Linked DNA regions of Homo sapiens: regions 2 and 3 are each linked to region 1. The links come from fine-mapping of genetic effects on gene expression. A gene starts in region 1. Each other region holds a variant in brackets. All regions are shown on one strand. Distances are from middle to middle.

Evidence for each region.
Region 2: its variant is fine-mapped to the expression of TTF2 in whole blood (INTERVAL, PIP 0.98).
Region 3: its variant is fine-mapped to the expression of TTF2 in lung (GTEx, PIP above 0.99).

Annotation. Positions count from the first base shown.
Region 1 is chr1:117,057,518-117,063,431 of GRCh38, forward strand. TTF2 (transcription termination factor 2) reads left to right here and starts at 2,809. Exons shown (of 23, transcript NM_003594.4): 1 at 2,809-2,857; 2 at 2,938-3,040; 3 at 4,870-4,956. The coding sequence starts at 2,830. It overlaps CD101-AS1 (CD101 antisense RNA 1), which reads right to left and starts at 1,973. Exons shown (of 4, transcript NR_110786.1): 1 at 1,856-1,973. RefSeq lists a silencer at 1,880-1,929 and an enhancer at 2,350-2,509.
Region 2 is chr1:117,157,883-117,163,796 of GRCh38, forward strand. All of the region lies in intron 2 of VTCN1 (V-set domain containing T cell activation inhibitor 1), which reads right to left. Among named protein-coding and RNA genes, the nearest start is that of TRIM45, 39 kb to the left of the region's middle. The variant G/A (reference allele first, on the strand shown) is at 2,519.
Region 3 is chr1:117,000,379-117,006,292 of GRCh38, forward strand. CD101 (CD101 molecule) reads left to right here and starts at 1,382. Exons shown (of 10, transcript NM_001256106.3): 1 at 1,382-1,482. The coding sequence starts at 1,440. The variant C/T (reference allele first, on the strand shown) is at 2,835.

The DNA of each region.
Region 1 (5,914 bases):
GTCAACATATCTAGATGACCAATTTTAGTTATTACTTTCAATGCAGCAGATAGGTATTTTGGCATTGCTTAGTTTTTAAAACAGCCTTATTAAGGTATAATTTAGATGTCATAGAATTCACCTATTTAAAGTGTACAATTCAAAGAGTCTAGTAAATTTAATCAATTGTGCACCCATTACCACAATCCAGTTTTAGAACAATTCCAACATATACTTTGCATTTGACCAGCTCCATACTGAACAAATTTATTGGATAATTAACCTGTGCATTTTAAGCCATCTAAATCTAGGACCCAGCCTAGACATTATTTTGAATAAATCAAGCTTTAAGGAAAAACAAACTCTAAACTTTACTCAAAATAGAGATCCATAAAGCACATTCTCCCAAGGTCTCTCCGGGGGTCTGTAGGCTAATTAACAATATAAATTTAAAATATAAATTAAGAATAAAAATTAATACACATACACCAATACATGTGTATATTTTGAAAAGTGTATGTTGTATAATTCATTATTATTTATTTCAATAGGCATAAGTTTTTTTTTAAGAGACAAAGTTTCACTCTGTCACCAAGGCTAGAGTGCAGTGGCACAATCACAGCTCACTGTAGCCTCAAACTTGTGGGCTCAAGCCATCCTCCCACCTCAGCCTCCTGAGTAGCTAGGACCGCAGGTGCCCACCACCATACTCAACGGGCATAAAAATTAATTTTAAAAATGTTTCCAGTTATGACCATCTTTCGTCCAATCTCAAACTTATTTTTTTCAATCTTGTAAATATGATGAGGTGGAATAAGTTGTCCAGGGACTTAACATTTTGATCTAGTATATTTTTAATTTATGGAAGAAATATTCCTCCTGTCTGTGATTTGGCTGTGCACACTTTTGTGAGGTTGGACTGGAGATACCGACTTGGGTACTTGCAGAGGAGGAGCTTCTTCCTTAACGGGATATTTAAGAGGCCCCGATTTTGCCTTGTTTCGAAAATTATTCAAGAAATAATTAATTACCATGCCCCTCTTTCTGCAAATCCTGTATTCATGGTATACTACCTCCAATACAGCATCTATTAAACATGTACAAATACATCATTTGCAAGAATAACAATCTTGGAATAATGAAAATGCTTCTACCTATTTGTTGTTCCTGTCTTATCTCTAAGTTCATCTAAGTTTCGGAAGGGTAGTTATGTATAAAGGAACTTCACTTTGGAAATTCCATTTTTCTCTAGTCCTAGAGAGTTACTGCTAACTCCATTCATTTTGACATTTAAATACTATTTTATATTGTTATTTAAGTGTTCAACATGTACTAGTTCAGTCTCCTCAAAATACTGAGTAAGTTCCTTGTGCTTAGAATAGTTGTTTCAAACTTTGTGTGTGTGAATGAATGAATTTTACATTTCTCAAGCACCTAGTCCACAACGGGCACAAAAAAGCTATTTAGTAAGTACTGTTTAATTAATAAATGATACCTCAGGTTTGTCTCCCTTCCTCCGGATCCCCATAACATGTACATTTATCACATCGCCCAGATTTCCTAGACATTACAGATTTTCTGTTCTACGGCCCCCATAAGAACAGTGCAGGTGCCACACCATATGTCTGGGACATATGGTCCTCAATAGCTGCAATATGAAACTATTTCTATTGCAATAAATCTAATATCTATTCCTCTCTGTTTACTAATAGTTTTGATTACAACTTCAAATTTTAAAAATCGAGGATGAAGTTAAATAGAAGGGAACTGTCCCCTTTCTTCTATTTAACCTCGTCTTCGATTTTTAAAATTACAAAAGCATAATAGTAAAAAAAAGTTTGACAATACAAAATGATAAAGTAAAATTCGCCTTCACCAAAAGTCATCTATTTCCCCTTCTGTGGTTTCCACGTTGCGGCTGGTAACTCGGGGCTTCCACGCTGGGCGAGCCTAGAGAACATCCAGTACACACAGGAAGCAGCAGCGCGGGCCAAATGGCGCTGAGACCTGCGCACCTGTCCACGGACCGCCCACTCGCCAACTCTGACCTTGGGTGAGTCTCTCAAACTTGAGTCTCGGAATCTTCCACAAAATGCTACCCATCTCACCAGGTCGAGTGAGGAGGGTCGTGTTATGTGTAAGCACTTTGTGAAATCTAAAGCACGAGGCAAACGTAAAGCATTGTAGGGGGTCCTAGAGAAGTCTTTGTGCCTGCCTATCAGAGCCGTTTCAGTTCCCCGCAGCAGCTTCCAAGGACCTCCCACCATGCCCGCCGCTTCGGCTCCTGCACTGCAAATCTCGCGGCTCGGCCTGCAGCGGCGGCTTCCCCTGGCCTCCCACCCCAGCGACTGAGCGCGGAGCCCAGCGCGCACGAGCGCCAGCCTGGCTCAGAGACACCCACGAAGCCAGGGCCTTTCAGCGCCTGCTAACTGGCGCTACCCCTAGGGCCGCCTCTCGGTTTTAAACGTAAACAAGAGTTGCCCTTCCGTCTTCCAAGACCTGCAAATCGAAGCTTCTTTTCCTCCAGAAGCCCCGCCACCTTCTAAGCTTCTCCCCAGCCTCAGCCACGCCCCAGCCTGCAAAAGCCGGGTCCTTTACGCCCCCTGGCTCCGTATTTGATTTCGGCGCGCGCCATACCTGAGGGCAGCTGTGATTGGTTGGAGGTGAGCGAAGTTCCTATATGATTGGCTGATAGCGGCTAGGACGGGTGAAGGCCAAGGGCGGAGAATTATGGGAGGGATTAAGACTGCAAGAGCTGAGTGATGGTTGGTTCCTGAACAAAGAGGGCGGAGTAAAAGGCGGAAGCAGAATTGGGGGCGGGGCTTTGTGGAACTTGGGGGACCCAGCGAAATGGAAGAAGTTAGGTGTCCAGAGCACGGTAAGGGGCTAGGGTCTCAGCGTCCCGGGGCCTGTTGATTTAGCGTGGCGTAATCGTTGTTCACTTTCTTCTCTCTTCAGGGACTTTCTGCTTTCTTAAGACCGGCGTCCGCGATGGCCCGAATAAAGGAAAGAGCTTCTACGTGTGCCGGGCAGACACGTGCAGCTTCGTGCGGGCCACCGAGTAGGTCTGGAGCTGGGCCCCACTCCCTGTGGCTGCCCGGGGCCTCCCGAGAGGAGCTTCCCGCTCCCCGCTGTCGGGCGTCACAGGGCCGAGGAGTGGTGGGGCCCTAGTTTGCGGTGTCAGGACCCTTTAAGCAATTGGTGATCCCAGGGCAGCGTGGCGTGTTCGGAAGACGCCCAGCTAATTCTGGCTGTGTGACCCGAGGCTGGTTACCCCCCTCTCTGGGCCGATGGTTCCCCTACCTGTAAAATTGAGGATCCGGTGTTTTCCAGCTCTGGGTTTCTATTCACTTGACAGGCCTTAACCACTCCCTTCTCCTGCCCAGACAGTCCCTCCCCCTTTAAAGGAGTAAGGACACACAGCAGACATAGTGGAAAATAATTTGTCCCTGTTTTGCACTAGTTTTAGGCCCGACGGTTTTTTTTAAATGTTTGAGCTTAAAACACTCTAGTGATTAGTTGTTAGCCTTCTTATTTTTAAGTAGGATTCTCTGCATCTAAATGGTGAAATTGATAATTCAAAGAAATTAGCGCTGGAAGAAACAACGGAGGGCCTGGCGCGGTGTGTGACGCCTGTAATCCCAGCACTTTGGGAGGCGAAGGCGAGCGAATCGCTTGAGCCCAGGGGTTCGAAACCAGCCTGGGCAACATGGTGAAATCCCGTCTCTACGAAAAATTAAAAAAAATTGTCTAGGCATGGTATCACACGCCTGTAGTCCCAGCTACTCGTGAGGCTGAGGTGGGAGGAGAGAGTCAGAAATGTTAAGCATCTTCTCTAAAGTGAGGAAAGTTAATAGTTTGTCAAGTGTTAATGTTTTCACAGTACCAAGTGTCTACATTTTCTATGTGAATTTTAAAACTATCATCACATCATTAAACATCTCCTGCTCTCTATTCAGCAAAACTTGGTAGAGAAAAGTTATTTTTCTCCGTGTCAGATGTAGAGTACATAATGGATATCAGTATTAGAAAAGTGCCCTTTCAACATGTATACTAACTTCCCATGTTTCTGTTTCATGAGTTAGATGATTTACACTGAGCCTCTCAGATATAGTACCCAGGTCAAGTTTTGTGAGATAGAAGCATTTTTACCTTTGCAGGAATTCAACATTAATGGTGGCATAAGATTTGGTTTTACATTAAGAGAAACACTCTTATTTAGGATCCCATCTACACAAATGCTTTGCTATACAAACTAGCACAGTGGTATTTGAAGACAATTATTTGATAAACTTGATTTATTTGGACTATATCTGATAACCAATATACAGGCCAAAAAAAGTGCCACAGGTTTAGGAGAGTACTTTAAACCTTCACTCAAACCTGTTTACTCTCAAATGTTATATATATTTAAATTTTTTCATAATAAGTTGGAAGGGAGTGATTAAAAACTTACACAAAACAAGAAGCATATAGGGCGTATTGTTAGAGGTAGGCGTGTGAATAACACTAAGTGACAGCTCTCAGCTTGTTAGAGGGAAAGGATGAAGGGAAGAGCCTGGGGAAAATTCATACAGGGCCTCACAGCCAGCCCTAATTATGTCATTCGTAGGGGGATCCCAGTGTAGAGATTACACAGTGCAGTGTGGTTTTAAACTTTTGAGTCATCAAGAAACAGTTATGCTTTATTTGAGAAAGTGGGTAAAGATGAAAGCTAGGGACTTCTTCCCCAAAGGAATGCCCATAGCTGTGATAATGTGTGGGAATTACAAACCCAGTAGAGGTTATACATAGATTCTTGGTGTAAAAACCCATAGTTTTGATTTGACTTTAGGATATTGATCTCTGTTCCTGACCTAAAAATGTTTTCAACTTTTTTCTTTTCTCTAGCATTCCTGTTTCCCATTGCTTATTGCATGAGGACTTTGTGGTAGAGCTTCAGGGTTTGCTTCTGCCACAGGACAAGAAAGAATACAGGTAAGGGTCCAAAAGGAACATCTAAGTGTATTTGCTTTTTTTTTTTTTTCTCCCTGAAAGAGTTGTAGCCAGGTATGTATTAGGATTGTTCTTTAAAAGTCATTTTAAAAAACAAAATTTGTATATGTATTAAGTGTCTTTTGGCTGTCACTACCTAAATACCAAGCAGCTAGTTAATCTGAGAAGTCTGATTTCTAGTAATTTTCACGTAAATGGCTCCACAATCATCCCTCTCCAACTGTCAGGTAGCCTATAATGACAGCTGACCATTGGCCACTAACTTGCCCTTAACTTGTCAATCTTCTAATTCTGGTAATAGAACAAGGTAGTGAGTAAAAATGGCTAAACATATTTAGTCCTCAATAAATGTTAGTTTCTTTTCCTTTATATGGGAATTTGGGAAGGGCAGAGAAGTCTATAGAGCTGGGAGATATTTGTCACGAGTATTCAAAGATAAAGTAGGAATTCCCTAAGTGTTAGAGAGAGGTCATATTTAATGGACTAATATATTGCATTAGAGTACTAAGGCATGAATTAACATGGCATTTTCAGGGAAAATTTGATTTGTTAATAGTTTAACATATCTTTAAACAGAGACTTTAGGCGATAAGGCTGGCCAGGAAGGTAGGGGTCAGGATGTGATAGATGGTCTTTGTGTGATATTCTATGCACTTCATAATTTATATATTCTAGATCCCCCCACCCAATTAAAGGCATTTGAGTACCACCTACAATTTTTATATACCTGAGTACTGTTCATACTTCTATTTTTCTTAATTTAGTTATATGTATAGTAAGATACACAAGTCTTAAGATTTCAACCAGTTGAGTTTTGAGAATGCATGTACCTGCTCATAAAACCAAGATCCGAGTCAAAATATTACCCCAATAAGTGCCATCAGTCCCCTTCAAGTTAATTTCACCCCTCCCATCTCCACCCCTGTCAGCAATCACTGTT
Region 2 (5,914 bases), 100 kb after region 1:
CAGTCATTCCAAATGGGAGAAATTGGCCAAAACAAAGTAGTTACAGGGCCTATGCAAGTCCAAAATTTTAAAGCTCCAAATGATCTCCTTTGACTCCAGGTCTCACATCCAGGTCATGCTGATGCAAGAGGTGGGTTTCCATGGTCTTGGGCAGCTCCACCCCTGTGGCTTTGCAGGGTGCAGCCTCCCTCCCAGCTGCTTTCATAGGCTGGCATTGAGTGTCTGTTGCTTTTCCAGAAGAACAGTGCAAGCTGTCAGTGGATCTACCATTCTGTGGTCTGGAGGACAGTGGCTGTTTTCTCACAGCTCCACTAAGTGGTGCACCAGGGGGACTTTGTGTTGGGGCTCCGACTCCATATTTTCCTTCTGCACTGCCCTAGCAGAAGTTCTCCATGAGAGCCCCACTCCTGCAGCAATCTTCTGCCTGGGCATCCAGGCATTTCCAGACATCTTCTGAAATCTAGGTGGAGGTTCGCAAACCCCAATTCTTGACTTCTGTGCACTCACAGGCTCAACACCACATAGAAGCTGCCGAGACTTGGGGTTTGCACCCTCTGAAGCCATGGCCCAAGACCCTTTTGGGCACAGCTGGAGCAGCTGGGATACAGGAAACCAAGTCCCTAGGCTGCACACAGCATGGGGACCCTGGGCCCGGCCCACAAAACTATTTTCTCCTAGGACCCCAGGCCTGTGATGGGAGGGGCAGCCATGAAGACCTCTGACATACCCTGCAGACATTTTCCCCATTGTCTTAGGGATTAACATTCAGCTCCTCATTACTTATGCAAATTTCTGCAGCCAGCTTGAATTTCTCCTCAGAAAATGGGTTTTTCTTTTCTTTCACATTGTCAGGCTGCAAATTTTCCAAACTTTTATGCTCTGCTTCCCTTATAAAACTGAATACCTTTAACAGCACCGAAGTTACCTCTTGAATGCTTTGCTGCTTAGAAATTTCTTCCACCAGATACCCCAAATCATCTCTCTCAAGTTCAAAGTTCCACAAATCTCGAGGGCAGGGGCAAAACATCATCAGTCTCTTTGTTAAAACATAACAAGAGTCACCTTTACTCCAGTTCTCAGCAGGTTCCTCATCTCCATCTGAGACCACTTCAGTCTGGACCTTATTGTCCATATCACTATAAGGCTTTTGGTCAAAGCCATTCAACAAGTCTCTAGGAAGTTTCAAAATTTCCCACATTTTCCTGTCTTCTTCTGAGCTCTCCAAACTGTTCCAACCTCTGCCTGTTACCCAGTTCCAAAGTTGCTTCCACATTTTTGGGTATCTTTTCAGCAGTGCCCCACTCTACTGGTACCAATTTACTGTATTAGTCCATTTTCACAGTGCTGATAAAGAAATACCCGAGACTTGGAAGAAAAAGAGGTTTAATTGAACTTAACAGTTTCACATGGCTGGGGAGGCCTCAGAGTCATGGCGGGAGGTGAAAGGCACTTCTTACATGGCAGTGGCAAGAGAAAATGAGAAAGATGCAAAAGCAGAAACCCCTGATAAAACCATAAGATCTTGTGAGACTTATTTACTACCATGAGAACAGTATGGGGGGAACCACCCCCATGATTCAAATGATCTCCCACCAGGTCCCTCCCACAACACATGGGAATTATGGGAGTATAATTTAAGATGAGATTTGGGTGGGGACACAGAGCCAAACTATATCACCTACTTTAAAGGTTTCTTGTGAGGATCAAATCAAATGGATATTAACCTGATTTGCAAACTGTAATTACACATATAAGGTATTGTTATTCTCAGTTAACCAGAAGTAGCACAGAAGTGAAATCTCATGTTAACTAAATGTGGCCTAGTCATTCTGAAAAATGCTGAATTCTAAAGTGCTGTAACTTTTATTTCTGTTTGAATGACATAGAAACTAAGGCAGTGAGAAAATAACTGATTTGATCAAGTTTACAGTGCTAGCTATAGCATAATGAAGAACTGTATTTAATTCAGTTGATTTTTGGTTTAAAATGAAAGCCACCCTCTCCTCTACTGACATACCACCAGTAGAAATATTAATTATGTGCCAGCTGTATCCAACTGCTTCCTCCTCACTTGGCCAGCCTACAGCCTACCCAGTCAAGGAAGGATCAATCAGCTGTTCATTGTACACTGGGGGCTGCTGACTGAGGACACCTATTGGGGTGATTTAATTAACTGAATCTTCTTGAGAGGCTCTTTCTGTGGCTTGGATATGAAACTAAGGGCAGATGGCCTTGGAGCCCAAGAGGAGAGTGGAGGAGACACAAAGAAGTATGGGGGAGAGACCATGGGAGAGAAAAATGGAAAGAGTCTTTCATCCCCAGAGCTGTCTTGGATCCTGGGGTGTTCAGGTCTAGTTCCTGTCCTAATCTCTGCACATCCTTTAAACAACACCTGATATTAAAGTGGCCTGCACAAGTCTCTCTTTCTTACAGCCAAAAAAGCCCAACATAACGGGTCCTGAGCACTTCCTAACTGGACTTATCAGCTTCTTTATTGGTATTTCTACCTTTCATCTTC[G/A]CCTCCATCCAATCCATTTTACATGCATTAATCCTACAGGTAGACCTTCTTACAGTACAATTTGAACATATCTGTTTTCTAATCACTCATCTTTAATGGTTCCTAAGAGCTGTGGAATGGATTTCAGATTTTCCAGCCTGGACTTCAAAGCTAAACACTGCCTGCTACATAGTAAATGCTCCATACATATTAGCCCTTATTGCTGTCTTTGCAGCCTTCTCTCCAACTACATCCTTTCATAGTCCATTCTGTCTGTCTGTATCAAATTATTTGTTGATTTTCTGCCTTAAATAAAAAACATACAAACAAAGCAGACGTGTTTGTTGTTGTTGTTGTTGTTGTTTTAATGTGAGAGGTAAACATTATCAACATAAGGATATCCTTGGCTCTTCTCCTCTTCCAGCCTATTAGGGGTTGGAATTATCTCATTGACTCCTAGACCTCTACAAAGTAAATGAGGGTAATGAATGAGGAAGAGAACTGGAGAAGCTAATCTAGATGGATTTGCAGCAGAAAGAACAGAAGGCTACTGATGGAAGAAAAATTATAGCTAGAAAAGGAGGAAGAGGAGACAAAAACAAGTACATAGCCTGGTTTGGAAGGATGTTTTGGAGGCTTGAGAGCGTGAGAAAAGACACTTTGGAAGCAGCTGCCATGCATGGCCATTCCTGTGGGAGATCTGGGAGACGAATTATGAAAGAGGACAAAATGAAGTTTTTGCTGTGTAATAAGAACACAACACACCTCCATTCCCTGCATTGGTATTTTCTTGAACATTGATTTAAAGATTCAGTTTGCTTTGCAAGTATTGTTACTTAGAGAATGATATCCAAGGCATCCCAGGCTAGCATGGGTTACACAATTACACTATGCGCCTTCACACTGCTGTTCATCTTGTACCTATTAATTCATAGCTCACACTTCTTTAACACCAGTTATGCAAATTCTACTTATATTCAAAGTCCGTTCAGATGGCAGCCCTCCCATGAAATCCTCTTTTAATTCACCAAAGGAAAAATTAGTAGATTCTCTCTTTACTTTCCTGTAACTTTTTGTCTTTTTGGCCTTTATTATAGCAGCTGTCTCCCTCTACCTGGTCTCTAATCTATCTCTGGAACTAGTTTGTGAGCTTTTCAAGAGCAGAAACTGTCTTAATCCTATCTGTAAGTCCTGTAGTGCCTAGAGCTATGTTTCTGCAGAGAAAAATAATGTTTGCTGAGTTTATGAATAAATGAATAAATAAATGGAAATCAGTAGAAATCAAAGCATTGTTTGAGATAGGCTAAAATTATTGTAGGAGTAAGGGACGTTTGGCAGGATTACCACATCTAAACTTTGGGGAAATGTGATCCAATGAAAAGGAAGGCAATAAAAATACTGAGAGGTTCACAATAAAATCATGAATCAAATACAACTATGTTACAGCAAAGGTAAATTTGATGGTTGTTGATAAAGTGCCATTAAAGTTGAATTGAAAGATTACTTCTCAGAAAAAATACATGATTAGCACAGTTTATGGAGAGAATGAAATGGTAATGACATACCTTAGTTCAGCAACTGTATTACTGAATTAATTTTAATATGTTGGCCTTGAGCTCACAGTTAGGGAATCCGTTGAAATATCTCCCAGAGAAGTTAATGATTAAAAGTAGGCAGCTGTGGAATGCCCTAGGGACCTGCTGCAGGTTCTAGTCATTTAAGGTTGCATTAATGATGTGGCAGATGGAATGAGTGTAATGTTGATTAAATCCCCTCCACCCCAATGTCAAATAAAGAAGAGAAATAAGAGCCAGTGAGAACTTAAAAAAACCACAGGGACCTAGCCATTGCTTTGCACCCAGAAAGCAGTCAATAAAATACTTGTTTGTTAAGTGAATAAATGATTGTTAAAAGTGACAAAATTTAATTTGCAAGCAACCACATGTAAATATTACTTCTCACAAGAAAAGAAACTATTCAGACTTGCAAACAAACATAGGCTCAAGGAGGATTATGCCATCTGGCCTCCTATGACTCTCCAGGCCTACTGACCACCAGAGATTCTTTTTTTTTTATTTTTTGGAGACAGAGACTCACTCCACCAGAGATTCTTGTGTGACTTGTTGAGTCAAAGGACAAAAGGACCCCATGGAGATGGGCTAGAGGCAGGTACCTATTGATAGAGAATTCTATTAAATGGGCACAGATTTTAAGCATTTCATTTACCTCTAAGATTTCATTAAACCCCTTTAAAATTGGAAGACTGAGCCACTTACTGAAAATTAATTATCCAGCTTGTGAGGGCTAATTAACTACCACAGCTCCTGTCTGCATGAGGAAAGTGGGGCTGTTAAAGCAGGGGCAAGACGAAACCTGAGCAGCTCTGGGTTCACACAGTGGGAGTACTATTCAATCAGCGCTCCGTTGTAGGAGTAGGAATATCTTGAAGTGGGGGTATAGGTAACACAAGACAAGGATTCTTTACAGAAACTATGATGCTGGGGCAGCCCACAGCGCTGGATAAAACCTGGAAAATGAGCTGTCCTTTGAAATGACTCAGAAAGACAGGTTCGTACATTCCAGTAGCATAGAGAGCATGCTAGATGTCTTCAGCAGATGGTCACCAGCATCTGCTAAAACTCAGCTGTCCAGATGGGCACCACAGTACATGGCTTACAAGGTCGAAATGCAAAGCTTAACCTTGGGGTCAAACCTGTGAGTGTCACTCTTGCCAAAGAAGACGGTGGGGTGGGGAGAACAGTTGCTTCCGTGAGAAGAAATTTAAAAGGACACTGGGCAAGGCCAGATACGGGAACAATGTAGGAAAGCAGCAGAACATGGTGTTTGAGAACATGGCACAGGTACAGGCTGCCTGGGTTGAAGTCCCAGCTCTGCCACTTATTGGATATGTGACCTTGGTCAAGTTTTCTAACCCTTTATTTCACCATTTTTTAAAATCTGTAAAATGGGGATGCTCCCTTAGAGGGTTCCTGAAAGGACTTAATGATACAATGCAGGTAAAGTGCTAAATATTGTACCTGAATTGCCACATGCTAAACCTTAAATCAGTATTGATATTAATAACCATTATTAACTACAATCATTTGGAAAGATTGCAGATCAGAGCCCCAGGAGGTAAGGAAAACAACATTTCACTAAATGTTTGCTTACAGAGACTCATTTTAAGCCATGAGAGAGTAAGAATGACCATTATACCCATTTATGGATGAGGATAGAGACTCCATGAGGTTAAATGGCTTGCCGAATGCCTTGGATCTAGCTGTTAGTAGAGTCAGGGTCAAACACAACCTGGTCTGGCCCTGAGCCTATGCCCTTTCTACCATATTTTGCTGATACCCAGGGCCAGATTGAGACATGTAGAGTGCCAACCCAATAAGAAGATATCCCTACTTCACT
Region 3 (5,914 bases), 57 kb before region 1:
AAAATACCTTGAGCACCAATTTAGGTTTTACAATAGTGATGTTATCCCTAGGAACAGTTGGGGAGGTTGGAATTGTGTGGCCTCTGGCTGCATGACTCCTAAACCATAATTTCTAATGTTGTGGCTAATTTGTTAGTCTTACTAGGGAAGTCTGCTCCCCAGGCAAGAAGGGGGTTTGTTTCCAGAAAGGGCTGTTATCCTCTTTGTTTCAAAATTAAACTAAGCTAAATTCCTCCCAAAGTTAGTTTGGCCTACAACCAGGAATTAACAAGGGCAGCTTGGAAGTTAGAAGCAAGATGGAGATGGTGAGGTCAGATCCCTTTCACTGTCATAACTTTCTCACTGTTACAATTTTTGCAAAGGCAGTTTCACAGGGCAGATGAAGATTTACTTAAATGTCTCATGATGGTGATGATGGTAGCTAATATTCATTGAGCAGTTACTATGTACCAGATATTGTTCTAAGTGCTTTAAATAAATTAGCTTGAAACTATCATTCTCAGCAAACTATCTCAAGAACAAAAAACCAAACACTGCATGTTCTCACTCATAGGTGGGAATTGAACAGTGAGAACACTTGGACACAGGAAGGGGAACATCACACACCGGGGCCTGTCATAGGGTCGGGGGAAGGGGGAGGGAAAGCATTAGGAGATATACCTAATGTAAATGACGAGTTAATGGGTGCAGCACACCAACATGGCACATGTATACATATGTAACAAATTTGCACGTTGTGCACATGTACCCTAGAACTTAAAGTATAATAATAATAAAAAAAAGTAAAATACAAAAAAAAAGAAATAAAAAAATAATTAAAAAATTAGCTCATTTGGCATTCACAGTAATCTTACAGGGTACCTACTATTAGTATCCTCATTTTAGCAATGAGGGTTAGGAAAAGTTAATTAAGTTTTCTAAGATTGCACAGTTACTAAAACTAGAATCTGCATGCAAACCCAGGCAGCCTGACTCTAGAGCCTGTAACCTTCAGCACCACCTCATGTCGCCCCAAGTTCATGTTTTTCAGGGGCCTTCTCCCATTTCTCAGTCATTTCCTCTCTCAAGAGAGGAGGAGAAGGAAGGGCCAAGAAGACAACATTGCTGGTGCCTTTTTTATTTATTCAGTTTACCTAAATTCTCTCATCATTACCAAATGACACATACTGTGAGCCAGGTTGAGACCCATCTTTTCTTAGTTTTATCGATATCTGTTTACTTAACCACAAAGATAACTTTTTTACTCCCAAATTTGAGTGATTAGTAAAGAGCTACATAATGTAACCAGTTTTGCTTTTCACAAGACATCTCTATTTCTCAGTGGGCTGAAAACCACACTTTTGCTTCCTCTTTACTTTGCAGTGAGAGCACAGCATTTGTCACTCAACCTCTGAATGTTAGTGACACTATTGGGACGAAAAAGGACTGTGCTGGCCCAAATGGCAGGCATCTCATATGTGGCATCTTTCTTTCTCCTTCTGAGTAAGTTTCATAATCCTTTATGTTTCTCTTGTCACAGGAGTTCATCAACTCAGGGTGCTGAGTGATGGAACAGGACAATTTGGTCTCTACAGGAACAACTATGCCATATATTTCTGATGTTAGCAATAATTTTTGACTTACTAATGACAGTTCTTGGCTTACCTAGACATCCTTGAGTTCCAGGGAGTCACAATGCTTGGTTGAGTCCCATGCACAAGATTCCATTGGTTTTAACATTTGTGTGTGTTGCCAGATCTGTCAGTTTTGCTTGGCCCTGGCTTTACTCATCTTCCTGGGCCGATCATCCCAAGAGACAGTAAAAAAGCTTTGTGTCCCAAACTGAGAGGAGACCTTAAGGTTTGCCTGATATTAAGGCTTGATGGGATAACTATGCCTTGCAGATATGACTGGATGGAAAGAAAGGTTATGAAAGTACTTAGTAGTTTTAGACTATGCTAAAAGAAGGTTCTAGATTTCACCTGCGAGTGGAAGTGGAAATTGACTACTGAGAGACTGAGAAATGAACAGGAAGATTCACTTGGCTCTACTGAGGGCCATGCAGAGGGGCTTGCCTGATCTAGGGGCATTTATCTATGTTTGAATAGGATGGAAGAAGAGAAAATTTGGAGGTAGAAGGGAGAGTCAGATGAGTTGAGCAGGTAATGGAATAGTTTCAAACCAGATAGCAGGTACTTTTTATGCTACAGTTTTCATTAACATCTGGTAAAGAGAATAGACTCCATCTCAGAATAATGTTTAAAATGCATAAAATAAAATGCATAGAATTACAGAGGAAATCAGTCACATTGAAATACAGGTATCAAAATATTTTAAATAAATTATAATGCAGTAATTTATTTGCTTCTTATTTATGCATTACATAACAAAATCTACAGGTAGGTCTTTTAACCACCAAACTTCAAAGTAATGATGAGTATAAATAACATTTCAATATATCTTAAGTAGTTGTAATGTGATATGAAGATATCTGTGGTTGTCTACATACATAACTGAAGAAAATACTAAATTTCCATTAGAGGCAAAAATGAAAATAAAGATGTAAGATTATTTTTCACCCTAGTTTATGGACCCTTTAATCCTACATGTGGACCCAGTTAAGAACTCTTGCTTTATAGCTGGGCATGGTGGCACATACCTGTGGCCCTAGCTACTTGGGAGGCTGAGGTGGGAGAATCGCTTGAACCTGGGAGGTGGAGGTTGCAGTGAGCCAAGATTGAGCCACTGCACTCCAGCCTGGGTGACAGAGTGAGATTCCATCTAAAAAAACAAACAAACAAACAAAACTCTTGCTTTAGAGAGACTGGATGGAGCCAGTGCAGGGACCCGAATGG[C/T]TGGGATGATTGGGGAACTAAACCAAGCTGCATTTGGTGTGACCAGGACTATGGCTGAAGAATTAAAAGAAAAGAATACAGCATTCAGCACAAAGAGGTTGCTTAATAAACATTGATTGAGTTGAATTGTGCTCATGTCTCTAGGTACATATGATAGTGTGAGGTTAAGAGTCAGACCTAGGGCCTGCAGGGGAAGTTACTGGGACCACTTGCTGGGTGACGGATGCCTGCCAGACTGGCTTGGCGGGTGTTGATGGATAGGTGCACTGGTGGGATCCTTTGGGGGCTGGTGTGTTTTTGTTGTTTGGTTAAGTTGTCTGAGTGTGATTCTCAAGTGTATGTGCTTTGTGTATTTGAATTCTATGTTTGCTATGTATATAGGAGGAAACTGGGTTTACATTGTGCAATAATTCATAGAATTGCAAATTCTGTCTCTTTTTTTGGTAAGCAGGCTAGAAGCCCTGGGGGAAGGAAAGTAGTAATCAAGGCTCAAAAAGGGGAAGCTGGAAGCTTTTCCTTAACCCATTTAAACAATTACCTAAACTGGGTTATACATTTACTTCTTCTAAATTCTGACTCATCTGAAGCACTAATTTTGTGTAGAAGCACAGTTTTTATGTGAAGAATACATAAATCAGGAAGTTACTGGAAAAAGCTTTAGAAGTCTGCTGTTTGTCCTTACAAATATAGAGGGGAATTGAAATAAATTATTTAAATAACGATCTATTGATCAATTACATTGGTTAGCAAATTTACACTTTGTCCCAATTTTTTTTTAGTAAATATAAGGACTGAACAATCCTGATAGAAAATGGTGCCATATGAGATTAATGTCATGGGTAAATGAGTTCTCGGATTTAGCAGTTAGCTTTGTCTGCTTGATCTATTTCCCCCACCCAAACTAGCTGCCCTACAAATAATGGCCATTAATATGGCAGGGTTTGGGGGAAGGGCTATTGTCTGTCTTACTGAGTTTGCATTCATGAAAAATAAAAAAGATTCCACTTAGTATGGATGGAAGCTATCTCAGCCTCCAAGCATATAGGGTTTTTGAATGTGAAAAGAGAAAGAAGCTGCTTGTTATGTTGGCTATTCCTGAGGTAGGTTTTGTATAAGGTAGCATTATTTGAAACTGCTGTTTTTTTGGTATAAAAAGTGCTCAAGTATGGACCATTTTATACAGTTCAACCTAATCGTTTTCATTCAAATAATACTGCAGTGGTAAATTTGACAATTCCAGTGATATTTTTAAAGAAAGTCAATACCATCGAGGAATTTTTGGTGTTTTGAAAGCATGATTCTAATGTTAGTATGTCAGTGCCAAGCTTTGTACTCATCAGCCAACAAGAATATGAGCTACTATTCAAAAGTAGCTAACCCTCTACCCATTAAAAGAGAGAGCAAGAGGGCAGTCCTCACAGGTGTTTTTCGGAGGGTGGATGATATGTACTTGAAAAAACCCAGAGAGAATATATTTATAGTAAGATGCTTAAGCTTATGGCCCCAGTGCATAGCCATTTGAGTTGATCTCTGCCAGTCATGCCTTCTACCTGAAAAATACCTTTGAAATCTCCACACTATTTCTTTCACTTTTCTCAGAAAGTAGTATGTCTTAGACTGTTTGGCGTGTTGTAGCAAAAGTACCATAAACTGGGGCGGGTGGGGGAGGGGGGCTTATAAACAACAGAAATTTAGTTTTGGAGGCTGGGAAGTCTAAGATCAAGGCACTGGCAGTTTGGTGTCAGTGAGGGCCTGTTCCTCATAGCACCTTCTAACTGTGTCCTCACGTGGCAGAAGGGGCTAGCGAGCTTCCTGGACTCTTTTACAAGGGCATTAATCCCATTCATGAGAGCACAGCCCTCATGACCTAATTGCTTCCTAAATGCCCCATCTCCTAATACCATCACCTTGGAAATTAGGTTTCTGCGTGTGAGTTTTAGGAAGACACAGACGTTGAGACTATAACACAGCACCCTCCCTGTCATCCCTCTACTAGGACATTACTTCATTCATCCTCCTTGCTGGCTTCACCCATTCTCCATCCCACCCCTTCCTACCGCTCCTCACCTAGCTACTCTTTCTAGCTGCCATCCTAATCTTCATTTTTCCTTCTCCATGAAACTCCTGGAAGTAGGTTCCACTTCCTGCAGTCACTTCTTACCCTGAAAACTGCTGCTTCCACTCTATTGAAATCCCTTTTACAAAGATCTTCATGGACATCCTCCTCATCGAGCTAACAGGAGTCTCCTCTGCCTTCAGAGTCCCCAACCTCTTGGCAGCCTTTGGCAGTGCTGACAAGCCCTTTCCTCTTAGAATGTTCTTCCCTTGATTTCCAGCCGCTGTGTCCTAGTTGCCCTCCATCTAACTCTTCCCTCTGTAAGTTTTGTTCCTTATCCCATCCCCTAAAGAGAGAAATTCCCTAGTAATCTCTCCTTAGTCCTCTTCCTTCTGTTCCCCAATACTTCCCAACACTTGTATGTAACTGACCTAATCTACATCTAACAGTTCAGAACTCTCCCTAGTTACAAACAGACATTTACAGGAGCCAACAAGAAACAATGGGGACAGCCATGGATTTGGCATTTGCAGATCTATTAATATGTTCAAGTCTGGCTCAAATCCTAGGAGTTTTTACATAACTAAATATGGGAATATCACAGGGTTTTTGAAAGGATTCGATTACAAATATTTTCAAAGGGTTAAAGTCTATTTAACCCTTTGAAAATATGTATAATTTATATGTAAATATAAATATCTATATTTAAATATTTCAAAATGTTTGCTGGATATCCTTCCTGTCTATTCCATGGTCTTCAAATTTAGTATTTCTAAAATTAAATGCATTATATTTTCACTCACCCTTATACACACAACAGTAACTCTTCCTAATATCTGTATTTCTAGTCAGAGTATCAATATTCTCCCAGGCAGCCTTATCAAACCTATGATCTTTGATTTCTTCCTACCTCTCATCTCGCCATTTAACCCTGCTACTCCCAAGCATCCAACGCACTGAAAACTACAGATTTTGTCTCCACAGTAGCTCAGTTATAGTACCTTTACTTTTATCCCTATTGCTT